Regions from separate parts of the Homo sapiens genome. Here region 2 is linked to region 1. The links come from fine-mapping of genetic effects on gene expression. A gene starts in region 1. The other region holds a variant in brackets. All regions are shown on one strand. Distances are between the middles of the regions. Region 1 holds the start of PRKCSH (PRKCSH beta subunit of glucosidase II). Region 2 overlaps RGL3 (ral guanine nucleotide dissociation stimulator like 3).

What was found.
Region 2: its variant is fine-mapped to the expression of PRKCSH in whole blood (TOPMed, PIP 0.95).

The regions. Positions count from the first base shown.
Region 1 is chr19:11,431,329-11,439,799 of GRCh38, forward strand. PRKCSH (PRKCSH beta subunit of glucosidase II) reads left to right here and starts at 4,307. Exons shown (of 18, transcript NM_001289104.2): 1 at 4,307-4,378; 2 at 4,713-4,868; 3 at 5,061-5,177; 4 at 6,548-6,643; 5 at 6,739-6,796. The coding sequence starts at 4,790. ODAD3 (outer dynein arm docking complex subunit 3) reads right to left here and starts at 3,793. Exons shown (of 13, transcript NM_145045.5): 1 at 3,445-3,793. The coding sequence starts at 3,688. It also overlaps the pseudogene LOC124904800. RefSeq lists enhancers at 3,912-4,411, 3,985-4,394, 4,645-4,864.
Region 2 is chr19:11,393,157-11,401,660 of GRCh38, forward strand. RGL3 (ral guanine nucleotide dissociation stimulator like 3) reads right to left here. Exons shown (of 19, transcript NM_001035223.4): 14 at 7,046-7,141; 15 at 6,884-6,952; 16 at 6,699-6,795; 17 at 4,289-4,441; 18 at 4,088-4,202; 19 at 904-1,364. The coding sequence ends at 1,246. Among named protein-coding and RNA genes, the nearest start is that of EPOR, 13 kb to the left of the region's middle. The variant T/C (reference allele first, on the strand shown) is at 4,673.

The sequences.
Region 1 (8,471 bases):
TCGAACTCCTGACCTCAGGTGTTCCCAAAGTTCTAGGCCCCCTAAAGTCCTAGGATTATAGGTGTGAGCCACTGTGCCAGGCTCATCAACTTAATATTATAAGAATGCAGTCGTTGACCAGCCTGGCCAACATGGTAAAACCGCATCTCTACTAAAAATACAAAAATTAGCCAGGTGTGAGGCTGAGCATGATGGCTCGTTCCTGTAATCCTTGCACTTTGGGAGGTAGAGGCGGGCGGATCACCTGAGGTCAAGAGTTCAAGATCAGCCTGGCCAACATGGTGAAACCCCATCTCTACAAAAATACAAAAATTAGCTGGGCATGGCCGGGCACGGTGGCTCACGTCCATAATCCCAGCACTTTGGGAGGCCAAAGTGAGCGGATCACGAGGTCAGGAGATCGAGACCATCCTGGCTAACATAGTGAAATCCCGCCTCTACTAAAAATACAAAAAAAAAAAAAAATTAGCCGTGCATGGTGGCAGGCACCTGTAGTCCCAGCTACTCAGGGGACTGAGGCAGGAGAATGGTGTGAACCTGGGAGGCAGAGCTTGCAGTGAGCCGAGATCGCACCACTGCACTCCAGCCTGGGTGACAGAGCGAGACTCTGCCTCAAAAAAAAAAAAAAAAAAAAATTAGCCGGGCATGATGGTGGGTGCCTGTAATCCCAGCTACAGGAGGCTGAGGCACAATAATTACTTGACCTCTGGAGGTGGAGGTTGCATTGAGCTGAGATCCTGCCACTGCACTCCAGCCTGGGCAACAGAGCAAGACTCTGTCTCAAAAAACAAAACAAAACAAAACAAAAAACCCCAAAATCCTTCCATACTCAAGTCCCACAGTCAGCCCTGTGGAACCTGCAGATACAAACAGTTGTCCCTCTGTATACTCAGGTTTTGCATTCCAGGACTGTTGTATTTTCTTTTCTTTTCTTTTTTGGGACTGGGTCTTGCTCTGTCACCCAGAATGAAGTGCAGTGGTGCTATCACTGCTCACTGAAGCCTCAACCTCCTGAGCTCAAGCAGTCCTCCTGCCTCAGCCTCCCAAGTAGCTAGGACTAGAGGCATGTGCCACCACATCTGGCTACTTTATTTTTTGTAGAGTCAAGGATCTCACTATGTTGCCCAGGCTGGTCTCGAACTCCTGGCCTCTAGCAATCCTCCTGCCTCAGCCTCCCAAAGTGCTGGGATTACAGGTATGAACCACTGTGCCCGGCCTGCCCATCTCAATTTTTTTTAACTTGAAAGGATGAATGATATATGTGAACACATGGTGTTCAACGGTCAACTGTACTTCACTGTGAGCATTTATTATGTGTTGGATGCTGGACTAAGAGGTTTCCGAATGCCATATATCACGTGCCAATAGGTATCCATGGCATACGCATATCATACCCCTTGCACAGATGACAAGACAGAGGCTTGGGCTGATTAAACTGCTTAAGGTCACAAGCAACCATGCAAGATTACCCTTTTTTTTTTTTAAGACGGAATCTCACTCTGTCACCCAGGCTGGAGTGCAGTGGCGCAATCCTGGCTCACCGCAACCTCCACCTCCTGGGTTCAAGCCCCTCTCCTGCCTCAGCCTTCCAAGTAGCTGGGATTACAGGCGTGCGCCACCATGCCCGGCTAATTTTTGTACTTTTAGTAGAGATGGGGTTTCACTATGTTGGCCAGGCTGGTCTCAAACTCCTGACCTCAAATGATCCGCCCACCTCAGCCTCCCAAAGTGCTGGGATTACAGGTGTGAGCCACCTCGCCCAGCCATGATTACCTCTTAATAATATCAACAAAAGCAATAATAATAGCTTACACACAAGGATTCTGCAACCTCAGGATGACCAACAACTGGGCCGAATAATTATTTGCCGTGGGGTGCTCTCCTGTGTTTTGCAGAATGTTGGGCAGCATCTTCAACTCTGCCCACTAGATGCCAGTGGCAGACACACACCCACAACAGACATCCATGCCACCATGCCCGGCTAATTTTTTGTATTTTTAGTAGAGACAGCGTTTCACCGTGTTGGCCATGCTGGTCTCAATGTCTTAGGACATTGCCAAATGGCCCCTGTGGGGCAAACCAACCCTTTTCCAACAAGAACCACTGGTTTACACCTTATGGTACTTTGCTATGTGCCAGGCACTGTTCTAAGCACTTTACACATTTCAGGTACCTATGTTGTACTGTTACTATCCCCATTTCACACATCGAGAAACTGAGAACAATTAGGTTACTCTTAGTCCCCCAAGGTTGGACAACTATTATGCAGAGCCAGGATTCCAACCCAGAAAATCTGGCTCTAAAAATCTATGCTCAGGCCAGGTGCAGCGGCCCATGCCTGTAACCCCAGCACTTTGGGAGGCTGAGGAGGAAGGATTGCTTGAGCCCAGGAGTTTGAGACCAGCCTGGGCAGCATAGTGAGACCCCATCTCTACAAAAAGTAAGAAAATTAGCCAAGCACAGTGGTGTATGCCTGTAGTCCCAGCTACTCAGGAGGCTGAGGTGGAAGGATCGCTTGAGCCTAGGAGGTCAAGTCTGCAGTGAACTGTTATCCAACCACTACACTCCAGCCTCAACAGCAGAGCAAGACCCTGTCAGAAAGAAAGAAGGCTGGGCGCGGTGGCTCACACATGTAATCCCAGCACTTTGGGAGCCAAGGCCGTGGATCACTTGAGATCAGGAGTTCGAGACCAGCCTGGCCAACATGGTGAAACCCAGTCTCTACTAAAAATATAAAAATTAGGTGTGGTGGCACGCACCTATAGTCCCAGCTAGTCAGGAGGCTGAGGCTCGAGAATCGCTTGAACCTTGGAGGCAGAGGTTGCAGTGAGCCGAGATCATGCCACTGCTCTCCAGCCTAGGCGACAGAGCAAGACCCTGTCTCAAAAAACAAAAAACAAAACAAAAAAAAACGCGGGTGCAGTGGCTCACGCCTGTAATCCCAGCAGTTTGGGAGGCCGAGGCGGGCTCACGCCTGTAATCCCAGCAGTTTGGGAGGTCAAGAGATTGAGACCACCCTGGCCAATATGGTGAAATCCCTCTGTACTAAAAATACAAAAATTAGTTAGGCGTGGTGGCGTGTGCCTGTAGTCCCAGCTACTCAAGAGGCTGAGGCAGGAGAATCGCTTGAACCCGGGAGGCGGAGGTTGCAGTGAGCCGAAATCGTTCCACTGCACTCCCACCTGGCAACAGAGTGAGATTCTGCCAAAAAAAAAAAAAAAAATAGAGAAAATAAATTACAAGAAAGTATGAAGTACAGTTCAGTCGGTTCTGAACCCATGAGAAGTTTTAAGAGACAGAGAAGGAAAAACATGAACTAAGTATGAGTTTTTGCCCAGAAACGGTTTACCTAGACTCATGCTGGAGAAATACCTTTGTCACACCATGAAGATTGGATGGGCACTGTTGACCCCTGACCCTCTGTACCCTCTGGAGCCATCTTACCTAACAGTTGTATCTTTTTATGTAACTCAGCCACCTGAGAGTGCACAGAGGGCTTCCCTGCACCTCTGTGGAAGGATCCTCCCTTGGAACGGCCTGGGGTCCACGCCTGGGCTGTGCCCTTGCCTCGGAGGTGGCTGGGTTTGCCCGAAGCCTCCCTGCCCTTGACCCTGGAAGAGGGCGTCGAAGCCTGGTCCTGAGGAGGCAGGGCGTTGGCGGAGGCCGCCCTGCACAGAGGAGATGTCATGATGGGGTTGGGGCTGAAGGCCCCTAGGGGTTAGGGGGATAACTAGGAGTCAGTCGCCCCTGTCAGGGATCCGTCAGCTCGGATTCCTAGGGCTCTGAAAAATGCACTTTCCGACCGCTAGGTGGTTGCGCTCCGCATCTCTCGGTTGCCAGGTAACCGCCTCCCCGTCTCTCTCCACTGTTTCCATGGAGATCACCCGCGTTCCGTGGCTGACACTGCGTTCTCATTGGCTGAGGCTGCATAGAGGGGCGGTCCCAACAGTGGGCGGGGTAGAGCCGCGCCGCAGGACGGAGGGTCTGGACACTTTGGGGTCACGTGCTCATTCCGTTTCCCTACCTCCCCCAACCTTATCCCGCCCCTGGGGGTTCGCGGGCATTTTTCAGGAACTTTCTTTCCGGCTTGAGAAGCCGCCACTCCCAAGATGGAGGTACGCTGCGCCGCCATTAAGAGCTAGCCCTCAGAACTATCCTCTCTAAGGTTTCACAGTCCTGCCCAAGATGGCCGTCTCGGCTCTGGCACCGCCCCCACTCCTGCCTCTCCCAACATGGCGACCCTGAGTCTCCGTTCCCGGTGCGGAACGTACGACCGGAAGTGACGGGGTCCAGAAATTTCCGCTTTCTTTCTGCAGCAGGAACCGCGGCTGCTGGACAAGAGGGGTGCGGTGGATACTGACCTTTGCTCCGGCCTCGTGTAGGTGTGAACGAGCGGGTGGGAGGGCACCTCAGTTTCTTACAGGGGGCAACCGGAGGGTGCATGTGTGGGTGTGGACGGCGGAGGCTGTTAATCCCTTTGGTCTGTTGGCGGGAATTGGGTCACAATTGGGCACAGGGAGCGGAGGTTTTGAGATCTTGAGATCCTCGCCATTGATTTGAGCAAAGTGAGACTGGCCAGGATTGGGGAGATCGCTGCCCCTCGCCCCCATATCGGAAACAAAGTGAGGCCTCATTGCCTGGAAGCGATGGAGGAATCCAATTGGCTGGAAGTAGCCCTCTCCCACTGACCGGGATCCGCTTTCTTCCTGCAGCGTGAAGACACAGCGCATCTCCCCGCTGTAGGCTTCCTCCCACAGAACCCGTTTCGGGCCTCAGAGCGTCTGGTGAGATGCTGTTGCCGCTGCTGCTGCTGCTACCCATGTGCTGGGCCGTGGAGGTCAAGAGGCCCCGGGGCGTCTCCCTCACCAGTGAGTCCTCCTGTTCACCCTCCCGCCAGGCTGGAGGTGGGAGGGGCCAACATTGGGCCTTAGGGATAGGCATTTACAGCCTTTTGACTCAGTTTCCCGGTAGTGCTCCGCTGGTGGGGATGGGAGGACAGAGGTGGTATTTGGTGGAGAAGGCGCTTACCTGCCCTGGGCTGAGCTTCCTGTACCCCGCAGATCATCACTTCTACGATGAGTCCAAGCCTTTCACCTGCCTGGACGGTTCGGCCACCATCCCATTTGATCAGGTCAACGATGACTATTGCGACTGCAAAGATGGCTCTGACGAGCCAGGTGAGCCTTTTCTCTGTTCATCCATCAGATGTTTATTGAACACTGCTCAGTGCCAGGCCCTGTCTGTGTGACCAAGATACTACCTCTGCTGGCTCCCCTTTGAGTGGGCAGAAACAAGCTCAGAAGTCAGTGGTCAGTGTTATGGCCCCGGGCAGCTGGAGGAGCCCAGAGTCGTCCTCCTCCCAAGCCTCGGGGTCAGAGAAGGCTCCTCCAAGGAGGTGAGGTTTCAGTTGAATCCCGAAGGTGCTGCAGATGGAGGGGTCAACACGGGCAAACCCCTAGAAGTGGGAGACAGGGTGGGGCCAAGAGCAATCCAGCAGGAGACAGAGGTGAAGGGAGACCCTGGCTTTTTGTTTTTGTGTGTTTTGAAGAGACAGGGTCTTGCTTTGTTGCTGAGGCTGGAGTACAGTGGCATGATCGTAGCTCACTGCAGCCTGGAACTCTTGGGCTCAAGTCATCCTCCTGCCTTGGCCTCCCAAAGTGCTGGGGTTACAGGTGTGAGCCACCGTGCCTGGATGAGACCGTGTCTTTGGTTTTGTTTTTGTTTTGAGACGGAGTCTTGCTCTGTTTCCCAGGCTGGAGTGCAGTGGCGCCATCTCGGCTCACTGCAAGCTCCGCCTCCCGGGTTCACACCGTTCTCCTGCCTCAGCCTCCTGAGTAGCTGGGACTACAGGCACCCACCACCACGCCCAGCTAGTTTTTTTTTGTATTTTTAGTAGATACAGGGTTTCACTGTGTTAGCCAGGATGGTCTCGATCTCGTCACCTTGTGATCCACCCGCCTCGGCCTCCCAAAGTGTTGGGATTACAGGCGTGAGCCACCGTACCTGGCCTTGTTTTGTTTTGTTTTTAATTTTTTTTTTTGAGATGGAGTTTCACTCTTATCGCCCAGGCTGGAGTGCAGTGGCATGATCTTGGCTCACTGCAGTCTCCACCTCCCGGGTTCAAGCGATTCTCCTGCCTCAGCCTCCTGAGTAGCTGGGATTACAGGCACATGCCACCACATCCGGCTAATTTTTCGTATTTTTAGTAGAGATGGAGTTTCATCGTGTTGGCCAGGCTGGTCTCAAACTCATCACCTCAGGTGACCCACCCGCCTCGGCCTCCCAAAGTGCTGGGATTACAGGTGTGAGCCCCCGTGCCAGGTGGAGACCCTGTTTTGAAGGGCCTCAGTGAGAAGAGGCAGGAGGCGGCACTGGAGAGCTTTATTTCGAGCCCTGGCTGTGCAGTGTACAACTCTTTCCTTCCTTTGGTTTCCTTTCCTTTCTTGTGCTGTGTGCAGTGTGGGTCAGGGGCTCTTATCTGTGGATGGATGGGACATGTCTGTCCCTGAGCTGACTCCGAAAACCTTCCCTCCCTTCTTCCTCACAGGCACGGCTGCCTGTCCTAATGGCAGCTTCCACTGCACCAACACTGGCTATAAGCCCCTGTATATCCCCTCCAACCGGGTCAACGATGGTGTTTGTGGTAAGTGAAGATGCACCAGGATTCTGGAAAGGTGGTAGAGGGAGGGAGGGAGGAGGCACTGCCAGGTCTGATCTTGGCTTCTGCCTCTGCCACAGACTGCTGCGATGGAACAGACGAGTACAACAGCGGCGTCATCTGTGAGAACACCTGCAAGTACGTGGGTGACAGTACCCCTCCCATCACCCCACCCCAAGACTTTGCCTGGCTCCACCCAGTGAATCGGGCCCACTCTCTCTTCTGCTTTTCTGTATCGGGTTCTCTGTCTGTGCCAGGTGCCTTGTGAATCCTAATCCCCACCTTTCCCTCTAGTCTGGAAGCAGGTAGGATTGTTTCCCGATTCAACAGATGGGGGAACTCAAGTTTAGAAAGGGAAATGACTTCCCCAGGGTCACATAGGAGATAGCAGAGCCGGCACTTGGACTCTAAACTTTCCATTGTCACGCTCTGCAGCAGGTCCTGAAAACCGAAACACCCACAGGCAGGTAAAGTATACAACGGAAGGAGGCCAGGCGCGGTGGCTCACACCTGTAATCCCAGCACTTTGGGAGGCTGAGGCAGGCGGATCACGAGGTCAGGAGATCGAGACCATCCTGGCTGACATGGTGAAACTCCGTCTCACTAAAAATACAAAAAATTAGCTGGGTGTGGTGGCGGGCGCCTGTAGTCCCAGCTACTCGGTGGGCTGAGGCAGGTGAGTGGCGTGAACACGGGAGGCAGAGGTTGCAGTGAGCCGAGATCGCACCACTGCAATCCAGCCTGGGCAACAGAGTGAGACTCCGTCTCAAAAAAAAAGCAAAAAAAAAAAAAGCATACAACAGAAGGAGGCCAAGTATGAGGCAATACGGAGGGGTGGGGATTGTGGCATCTAGGGGAACAGCTGTTCTCAATTCCTGCCAGCTGATCCTTTTGTAGTTCATAGGCATGATGATTTATTTTTATTTATTTATATTTTTTGAGACAGGGTCTCACTCTGTCGCCCAGGCTGGAGTGCAGTGGCGTGATCTTGGCTCACTGCAACCTCTGCCCTTCGGGTTCAAGCAATTCTCACACCTCAGCCTCCCAAGTAGCTGGGAATACAGGCGTACCCCCACCACGCCTGGCTAACTTTTGTATTTTTGGTAGAGATGGTTTCACTATGTTGGCCAGGCTGGCCTCGAACGCCTGACCTCAGGTGATCTGCTCGCCTCAGCCTCCCAAAGTGCTAAGCCGCCGCGCTTGGCCACGATGATTAGGTTTTTATGCACGTGTGAGAGATACGCCTCCCTTAAACCTTGTTGCGACCTTGGCGCATTACCTGTCTGATATGAAAAAATAAGACCCGGCTCATGGTGGCTCCTGCCTGTAATCCCAGCATTTTGGGAGGCTGAGGCAGGAAGACTGCTTGAGCCCAGGAGTTTGAGACCAGCCTGGGCAAAATAGCGATACCCTATCTCTATAAAAAGTAAAAAAAAAAAATTAAAAAGTAAAAATAAAAATTGGAAATTATAATTTAAAAAATTACTGGTTGGGCATGTGGCTCACACCTGTAATCCCAGCACTTTGGGAGGCTAAGGCGAGAGGATCACCTTAACCCAGGAGTTTGAGACCAGCCTGGGCAACACAGTGAGACCCGTCTCAGAAAAATTTTTCTTTTCTTTTTTTTTTTTTTTTTTTTTTTTTTTGTGAGACAGAGTCTCACTCTGTTGCCCAGGCTGGATGGAGTGCAGTGGCGCGATCTCGGCTCACTCTAACCTCTGCCTCCCGGGTTCAAGCGATTCTTCTGCCTTAGCCTCCTGAGTAGCTGGGACTACAGGCATCCACCACCACACCCGGCTAAAATTTGTATTTT
Region 2 (8,504 bases), 38 kb before region 1:
GAAGTCCTAAACCCTCTTTGTGTGATAGGATCCTTTATTTATTTATTTAGTGAGATGTGATCTCACTGTATTGCCCAGGCTGCTCTCGGACTCCTGAACTTAAGCAATCCTCTTACCTCAGCCTCCCAAAGTACTGGGATTACCCTCCTGAGCCACTGTGTCCGGCCAGACAGGATCCTCTCTGGCATCTGGGTTGAGTGTCATACCCGACTCAACACCTTTCTTAGGGCTCTTAGTTTTTTTGTTTTTGAGACAGGATCTCCCTCTGTCCTCCAGGTTGGAGTGCAGGGGCCCAGTCACTGCTCACTGCAGCTTCAACCTCCCAGGGCTCTGGTGATTCTCCCAGCTCAGCCTCCCAAGTAGGTAGGATTACAGTCTCATATCACCACACTCAGAAAATTTTTTGTTTGTTCATTTGTTTGTTTGTTTGTTTTTGAGATAGGGTCTTGCTCTGTCACCCAGGCTGGAGTACAGTGGTGTGATTTCCACTCACTGCAACCTCCACCTTCCGGGTTCAAGCAATTCTCCTGCCTCAGCCTCCCCAGTAGCTGGGATTACAGGTGCATGACACCACGCCCGGCTAATTTTTTGTACTTTTAGAAGATGGGGTTTTGCCATGTCGGCCAGGCTGGTCTCGAACTCCTGACCTCAGGCGATCTGCCTGCCTTGGCCTCCCAAAACGCTGGGATTACAGGCGTGAGTCACCACGCCCAGCCAAATTTTTGTATTTTTTGTAGAGACAGGATCTCGTTATGTTGCCCGGGCTGGTCTTGGCTCTTAGGTTTCTCTCTCTCTGTGTGTTTGTGTGTGTGTGTGTGGGTGTGTGTGTGGTAGCTGTTTTCCTTTATCTTGATAAAGGGTGAACATGGCACACAGGCGCAAAATAAACAAGACTGACACCTGTTTCATAACTCTGGTCACTATTTTCATCCGCATCTGTCACTTCTGATGCGTCTCTAACATTTATAAGATTTCTCTGGGGAGGGATTTGACGTATCCATGCCCCACCTCTTTCTACATTTATGGGATTGAGCTCTCCACCAGCCACCCATGGGCTGATGTCTTTGGAATATGGATCTAGTACCAACAGAGTCAGAAAAAGAGATGGGGTCCAATGGGCTACAGTTGGGTGGTGGTCCTGGGATACACAGCACAGTGGCCTCTACTGGGGGATGGCAGCTTTCCAGGAGAAGAGTCGCAAGCTTGCCTGTGGGACTTGTGTCTTGTGGAGAGGACAGGGCTGCCTCAGCTTGGGGAGACAGACAGAGTGTTCCGGGTCCCCTCTTTCCGCCGCAGCATGAAGTCTCTGGGGGCGACTGGACTCATGGCATAGAAGACGTTGGCATTGTCAGGAATCAGGAGCACTGGTCAGGAGTGGAGATGGTGGTAATAGGCCCTCACAACCTTGTGTCACCCCCACAGAGGACCCGGGAGCCTCCTGCCACTCACCCGCGAACCTGAACAGCCATGGGTCCCTCTGCAGCTACTGCCAAGCCAAGCTCATTCTGCTGTCACTGGGAACCTGGACGACTTCTCACTTGAAAACTTGCACCACCTCATGCCTTCCCTTATCATAAGCCTGGGCAACCTCCTAATATTCTCCCCCTCACCATAGAGACAAGGCAACCTGCAGTAAAAGTTTGAGCAAACTGGCCGGGCGCGATGCCTCGTGCCTGTAATCCCAGCGCTTTGGGAGGCCGAAGTGGGTGGATCACTTGAGGTCAGGAATTCGAGACCAGTCTGGCCAACATGGTGAAACCCCGTCTCTACTAAAAATACCAAAAAAATGAGCTAGGCATGGTGGCACATGCCTGTAATCCCAGCTACTCGGAAGGCTGAGGCAGGAGAATCTCTTGAACCCAGGAGGTGGATGTTGCGGTGAGCCGAGATCCTGCCATTGCACTCCAGCCTGGGCAACAGCACGAGACTCCATCTCAAAAAAAAAAAAACAAAAACAAACAAAACCGACAACCTGCAGTAAAAGTTTGGGCAAACTTAGACCACCCTAGACCACCCCCCGCCAAACAACTTCCTGCTCACCCTACCCCTCCCCCACAACCACTCCCAGCCAATCCCATGCTGCTGTCACCATGAACTTGAATAACTTCCCACTTCCAGCCTGCACGAGCTTGTGGCCTCACACTCAACACCTGAACAACCACAAGCATCCTTTCCTAATATCCAGCCAACCTCATGCCATGTACTTCAGCGTGAATACGCTCAATCCCTTGCTTCTCCCTGTCAGACAGGACAATCTCATGCTTCCGCGGCTATCCATTTGCCTCTCTCCCGTCCCAAGTTCAGATAACTTCAGGGTCCCAGTGGTGAACAAACTTAGTTCTCACAAATCTAAGCCCAGATGCCCTTTAGTCTCCCATCCCATCAGGTTGAGCCTGAACAATCTCATGATGCTACAAACTTAAGATCAGACAAACTTCTACACTCCCTTCTCTCACTCGACCCTAGACAATCTATTTTTTCTTTTTTTTTGAGACGGAGTCTCACTCTGTCGCCAGGCTGGAGTGCAGTGGCGCAATCTTGGCTCACTGCAACCTTCACCTCCTGGGTTCAAGTGATTCTTCTGCCTCAGCCTCCTGAGTAGCTGGGACTATAGGCGCCTGCCACCATGCCTGGCTAATTTTTTGTATTTTTAGTAGAGACGAGGCTTCACCATGTTGGCCAGGATGGTCTCGATCTCTTGACTTCGTGATCCACCCGCCTCGGCCTCCCAAAGTGCTGGGATTACAGGCGTGAGCCACCATGCCCGGCCCCCTTTTTTTTTTTTAATTGAGACAGGGTCTTGCTCTGTCACCCAGGCTGGAGTGCAGTGGCGTGATCTCAGCTCGCTGCAGCCTCCACCTCCTAGGCTCAAGTGATCCTCCCACCTCAGCCTCCCCAGTAGTTGGAGTTGGGAATACAGGCACATGCCACCATGCTCAGCTAATCTCTCTCTCTCTCTCTCTCTCTCTCTCTCTCTCTCTATATATATATATATATATATATTTTTTTTTTTTTTTTTTTTTTTTTTTTGAGACAGAGTCTTGCTCAGTCGCCAGGCTGGAGTGCAGTGGTGCGATCTCGGCTCACTGCAACCTCCGCCTCCTGGGTTCAAGCGATTCTTCTGCCTCAGCCTCCCGAGTAGCTGAGACTACAGGCATGTGCCACCATGCCCAGCTAATTTTTTTGTATTTTTAGTAGAGACGGGGCTTCACCATGTTGGCCAGGCTGGTCTCGAACTCCTGACCTCAAGTGATCCACCCGCTTTGGCCTCCCAAAGTGCCGGGATTACAGGCGTTGAGCCACCGCACCCAGCCAATTTCTCTATTTTTTGTATAGATGGGGTCTCCTCATGTTGCCCAGGCTGGTCTCAAACTCCTGAGCTCAGACAATCCACCCACCTTGACCTCCCAAAGTGCTGGGATTACAGTTGTGAGCCACCATGCCCAGCCCATCCTACAAATTGAAGGTCAGAAACACTCCCTTCTGTCACTTGTCCGTGGACAGTCTTTTTTTTTTTTTTTTTTTTTAAACAGAGTCTCGCTCTGCTGCCCAGGCTGAAGTGCAGTGGTATGATCTCGGCTCACTGCAACCTCCGCCTCCCAGATTCAAGCAATTATTCTCCTGCCTCAGCCTCCTGAGTAGCTGGGACTACAGGAGTGTGCCACCACACCCGACTAATTTTTGTATGTTTCGTAGAGACGGGGTTTCACCACGTTGGTCAGCCTGGTCTCAAACTCCTGACCTCAAGTGATCCGCCCAGCTTGACCTCCCAAAGTGCTGGGATTACAGACATGAGCCACTGCGCCTGGCCGGACCCTGGACAATCTTATTGTCTTTTAAATTTTAGGAAGATGACCTTTGGTACCTCTCTCTCACACTGAGCCAAGACAATCTCATGACCCTACATCGTTGGGTTACAGGTATTTTATGTCCTCTTACCTCCACTGATTATCTTACCCCTACTCTCTGCCTGAAGCACCTCACAGCCCTGTGAACCCGGGTAACCTTGGGCTCCATCCTTGGGCGTGGTCAGTCTGCTCGCCTCCCCGCTGCCCCCTATCCTGAGCTCCAACCCATCCCTGCTCACCCCGGTCCCCAGGAAGGACTTGAAAGAGCTGATAGTCACAGGCCCAGGGCTGGGGCACATTGTGCTTCTGCAAGGCTCGCCGGACCACGCTGGGGGCTTTGTCCTGACTGGTCAGCTGGAAGAGAGGGGCGGGAGGTGAGGTGAGGGCCCCGGCCCCAAGGGCAGGGCAGCCTCCAGCAGACCCCCAGCCCAGCCCCTCACCAAGATGCTTCGATACAGGTTCCCGTGGTCATTGTCGATGCTGACGCGGATGACACGGGCCTCCGAGCTCTGCTGCGCCGGGAGGGGGATTCGAGGGCTGCCCAGAGGCAAAGCGAAGGGCCGGGGGCTGGGCAGGTCCAGGCTCAGGGGCAGCTGCAGGCAGTAAGGGGTGGAGGCTACAGCTTGGCCCATCTGCAGATGCTGAGGGCTAGAAAAGCACGAACACCCCAGCCACCACTGGTGCATTCAATAGCCCCACATTTAAAATCTCAAGAAAACATTGGCTGGGCGCAGTGGCTCATGCCTGTAATCTCAGCATTTTGGGAGGCCGAGGTGGGCGGATCACTTGAGGTCGGGAGTTCAAGACCAGCCTGGCCAACGTGG[T/C]GAAACTCCGTCTCTACTAAAAATACAAAAATTAGCAGGGCCTGGTGGCGCATGCCTGTAATCCCAGCTACTTGGGAGGCCGAGGCAGGAGAATCACTTGAACTTGAGAGGCAGAGGTTGCAGTGAGCCAAGATCACGCTACTGCACTCCAGCCTGCGTGACAGAGCAAGACTCCATCTCAAAAATAAATAAATAAATAATAAAATAAAATAAAATCTCAAGAAAACATACTACTACCCCCTACACATGCAGAGCCTGGGACATGCAACTGGAGTACATTCACAAGCCTGCATATACACCACCCTACCATATACAGACTTTGGTTACCTGTTATAGAAACAGACATGAACAGTGTCCATATACACACAACCCATGCTCATACACAAGAAATCCTGTGTACATACATATGCTGACAGCGGTTATACACCCACAGCCCATGCCAATGAACAACCCCACACATGATCTCATGAATACTCAGGCCCACATTTCCTCTTCTGGTACACAGATTCTTTTCTTTTTCTTTTCTTTTTTTTTTGAGACAGAGTCTTGCTCTGTCACCCAGGCTGGAATGCAGTGGTGCCATCTCAGCTCACTGCAACCTCTGCCTCCCAGGTTCAAGCAATTCTCATGCCTCACCCTCCCAAGTAGCTGGGATTACAGGCCTGTGCCACTATGCCCAGCTAATGTTTTTATTTTTAGTAGAGACGGGGTTTCACCATGTTGGCTAGGCTGGTCTCAAATTCCTGGCCTCAAGTGATCCACTGGCCTCGGCCTCCCAAAGTGCTGGGATTACAGGCATGAGCTACCATGCCCAGCCTTCATTTCCTTCATTTCCTTTTCTTTTTTTGTTTTTCTTTTAGAGGGAGCCTCGCTCTGTCACCAGGCTGGATGGAGTGCAGTGGCACCATCTCAGCTCACTGCAACCTCCGTCTCCTGGGTTCAAGTGATTCTCCTGCCTCAGCCTCCCAAGTAGCTGGGACTACAGGTGTGCGCGACCATACCCAGCTAATTTTTCTATTTTCAGTAGAGACAGGGTTTCACCACGTTGGCCAGGATGGTCTCGATCTCTTGACCTCGTGATCCGCCCACCTCGGCCTCCCAGAGTGCTGGGATTACAGGCGTGAGCCACCGTGCCCAGTCTCTTTTTCTTCATAAACAGGATCTCGCTCTATCATGCAGGCTAGAGTGCCGTGGCATGATCGTAGCTCACTGCAGCCTCAAACTCAAGCGATCCTTCCACCTCAGCCTGCTGAGTAGCTGGGACTACACCCAGCTAATTTTTTTGACTTTTAATAGAAATAGGGTCTCACTATGTTGCCCAGGCTGGTCTTGAACTCCCGGCCTCAAGCAATCCTCCCACTTTGGCTTCCCAAAGTGCCGGGATCACAGGCAATAGCCACCGTGTCTGCCATGGTATGCAGATTCTTAGGGACATACATGTCCTCAAAAAAGTGTAGGCTGGGTGCGGTGGCTCACACCTGTAATCCCAGCACTTTGGGAGGCCGAGGTGAGTGCATTGTTTGAGCTCAGGAGTTCGAAACCCACCTGGGCAACATGGCGAAACCTCATCTCTACTAAATAAAAAAAATAGCAGGGCATGGTGGTGCACACCTGTGGTCCTAGCTACTTGGGAGGCTGAGGTGGAAGGATTGCTTGAGCCTGGGGGAGGGGTGGAAGTTGCGGTGAGCTGAGATTGCACCGCTGCACTTCAGCCTGGGTGACAGAGCAAGAAGACCCTGTTTCAAATAAAAAGGGGTGTGATGTGATTGCACCCTAGATGACCCATGGGCAAGCAGTTACACAGGTCCAAATCTGAGCACGAGTCGGATTTATGAGTGATCACCCAAACAGGGCCGTGCAGATGCATGCAATCCCCTGGATGGATACCCCGGGCGCTCAGTGTGCCTCCTGTATACACTCCTGGCCCCACAATCCTGTGTGTACACATGTGCATGCACACACACGTGCACACACACAGAGCCTGGGTGCCCGCAGGCCCGCATGCACACACAAGCCGTCTTGGTACCTTGGTGCTGGGGCCCTGGGGCCCTGGAGAGGCCGGGGGACTGCCAGCAGGAGCATCTCTGCTTCTAGGACTTGAGGGGGGTGACCCTGGGGACACACTGGGGGAGATGCAGAGGCTGAGGTGGGGTGGCTGTGCTGACTCCTGATCCCATGATCCCCAGTCCCATCACCAAGCAGAATGCTCACCTGGAGGTGGGGGATGAGGGGTCCCCGGGACTCCCACTAGGTGATGAGCTTTTCTCTCGGGCAAGCTTCCTAAGGATGGGGACAGGGGATGAGGCTAAGGCAGGAGCAGCCCTTGCTGATATCTGCCCACATCACCGCCCCTACACACACCCCGAGACTCACGCACTGAGACGCTTGGTGAGGCTGATCCGCCGTCGGATGCGTGGGGAGCTGGGGCAGGAGGCAGCTGGTGGCTCAATGACCCGGGAGAGCCGGTAGCTGAGGGGTCAATATGTGGATGAGGTGGTGGGGGCAGGAAATACAGGGGATGGAGAGATAAGAGTTGGAATCAGTTGGGAGGTGGGTTTGGGGTGTAAGGGGGAGCAGCCAGAGGTGGCACCCCACATGCCAGGGTCAGGGTGGTAAATGAGGGTCATTGAGCATCAAGGTCTTATCAGAGATGGGACAGGATGGCTGGTCAGGAGGTCACAAAGAGATTCACAGGGTGGCACTAAGGAATCAAATTGGGTCAGGATTAAAGTCAGGGTCAGGACTGGGTGCAGTGGCTCACGCCTGTAATCCTAGCACTTTGGGAGGCTGAGGCGAGAGGATTGCTTCGGGTCAAGAGTTCGAAACCAGCCTGGCCAATATAGTGAAACCCCGTCTCTACTAAAAATACAAAAAAAATTAGCCAGGTGTGGTAGCTCGCGCCTGTAATTGCGGCTACCGGGGAGGCTGAGGCAGTAGAATTGCTTGAACCTGGGAGGCGGGGGCTACAGTGAGCCGAGATCACTCCACTGCACTCCAGCCTGGGAAACAGAGCCAGACTCTGTCTCAAAAATAAATAAATAAATAAATAAATAAATAAATAAATAAATAAATAAAATAAAGTCAGGGTCAGACTGGGGTCAGGTCACCATTGGGGTCAATGGTTAGGGTCACAGTTATATAGAAAGAAAGGACACAGTTGTCATAGTCAAGCTGGACAGTCAAACATAAAAGTTGGAGTCAGTTACTCAGAACTGAGGGTCAAGGGTTGGGGTCAGAGAGTCAGATGAGGGGTCATGAATAAGGTCATGGGTCAGATAGGACCAAAGATGGGGAAGTCAACAGATGGGACAGTTGAGTTGAATGGCCAGCTGAATGCTAAAGTTGAGGTCAGAAAATCAGATGGGGTTGAAATTGAGGTCAGAGGTCAATTGTGACTATTTTTTTTTTTTTTTTTTTGAGACAGGGTCTCACTCTGTCACCTAGACTGGAACTGCAGTGGCGTGATTTTGGCTCACTCCAACCTCTGCCTCCCAGGCTCCAGCAATCCTCCCACCTCAGCCTCCCAAGTAGTTGGGACCAACGGCACTCAACACCACATTCAGCTAATTTTTTTTTTTTTTTTTTGAGACGGAGTCTCGCTCTGTTGCCCAGGCTGGAGTGCAGTGGCACCATCTCGGCTCCCTGCAAGCTCTGCCTCCCGGGTTCACGCCATTCTCCTGCCTCAGCCTCCCAAGTAGCTGGGACTACAGGCGCCTGCCACTACACCTGGCTAATTTTTTTTTTGTATTTTTAGTAGAGACGGGGTTTCACTCTGTTAGCCAGGCTGGTCTCAAACTCCTTACCTCATGTGATTCACCCGCCTCGGCCTCCC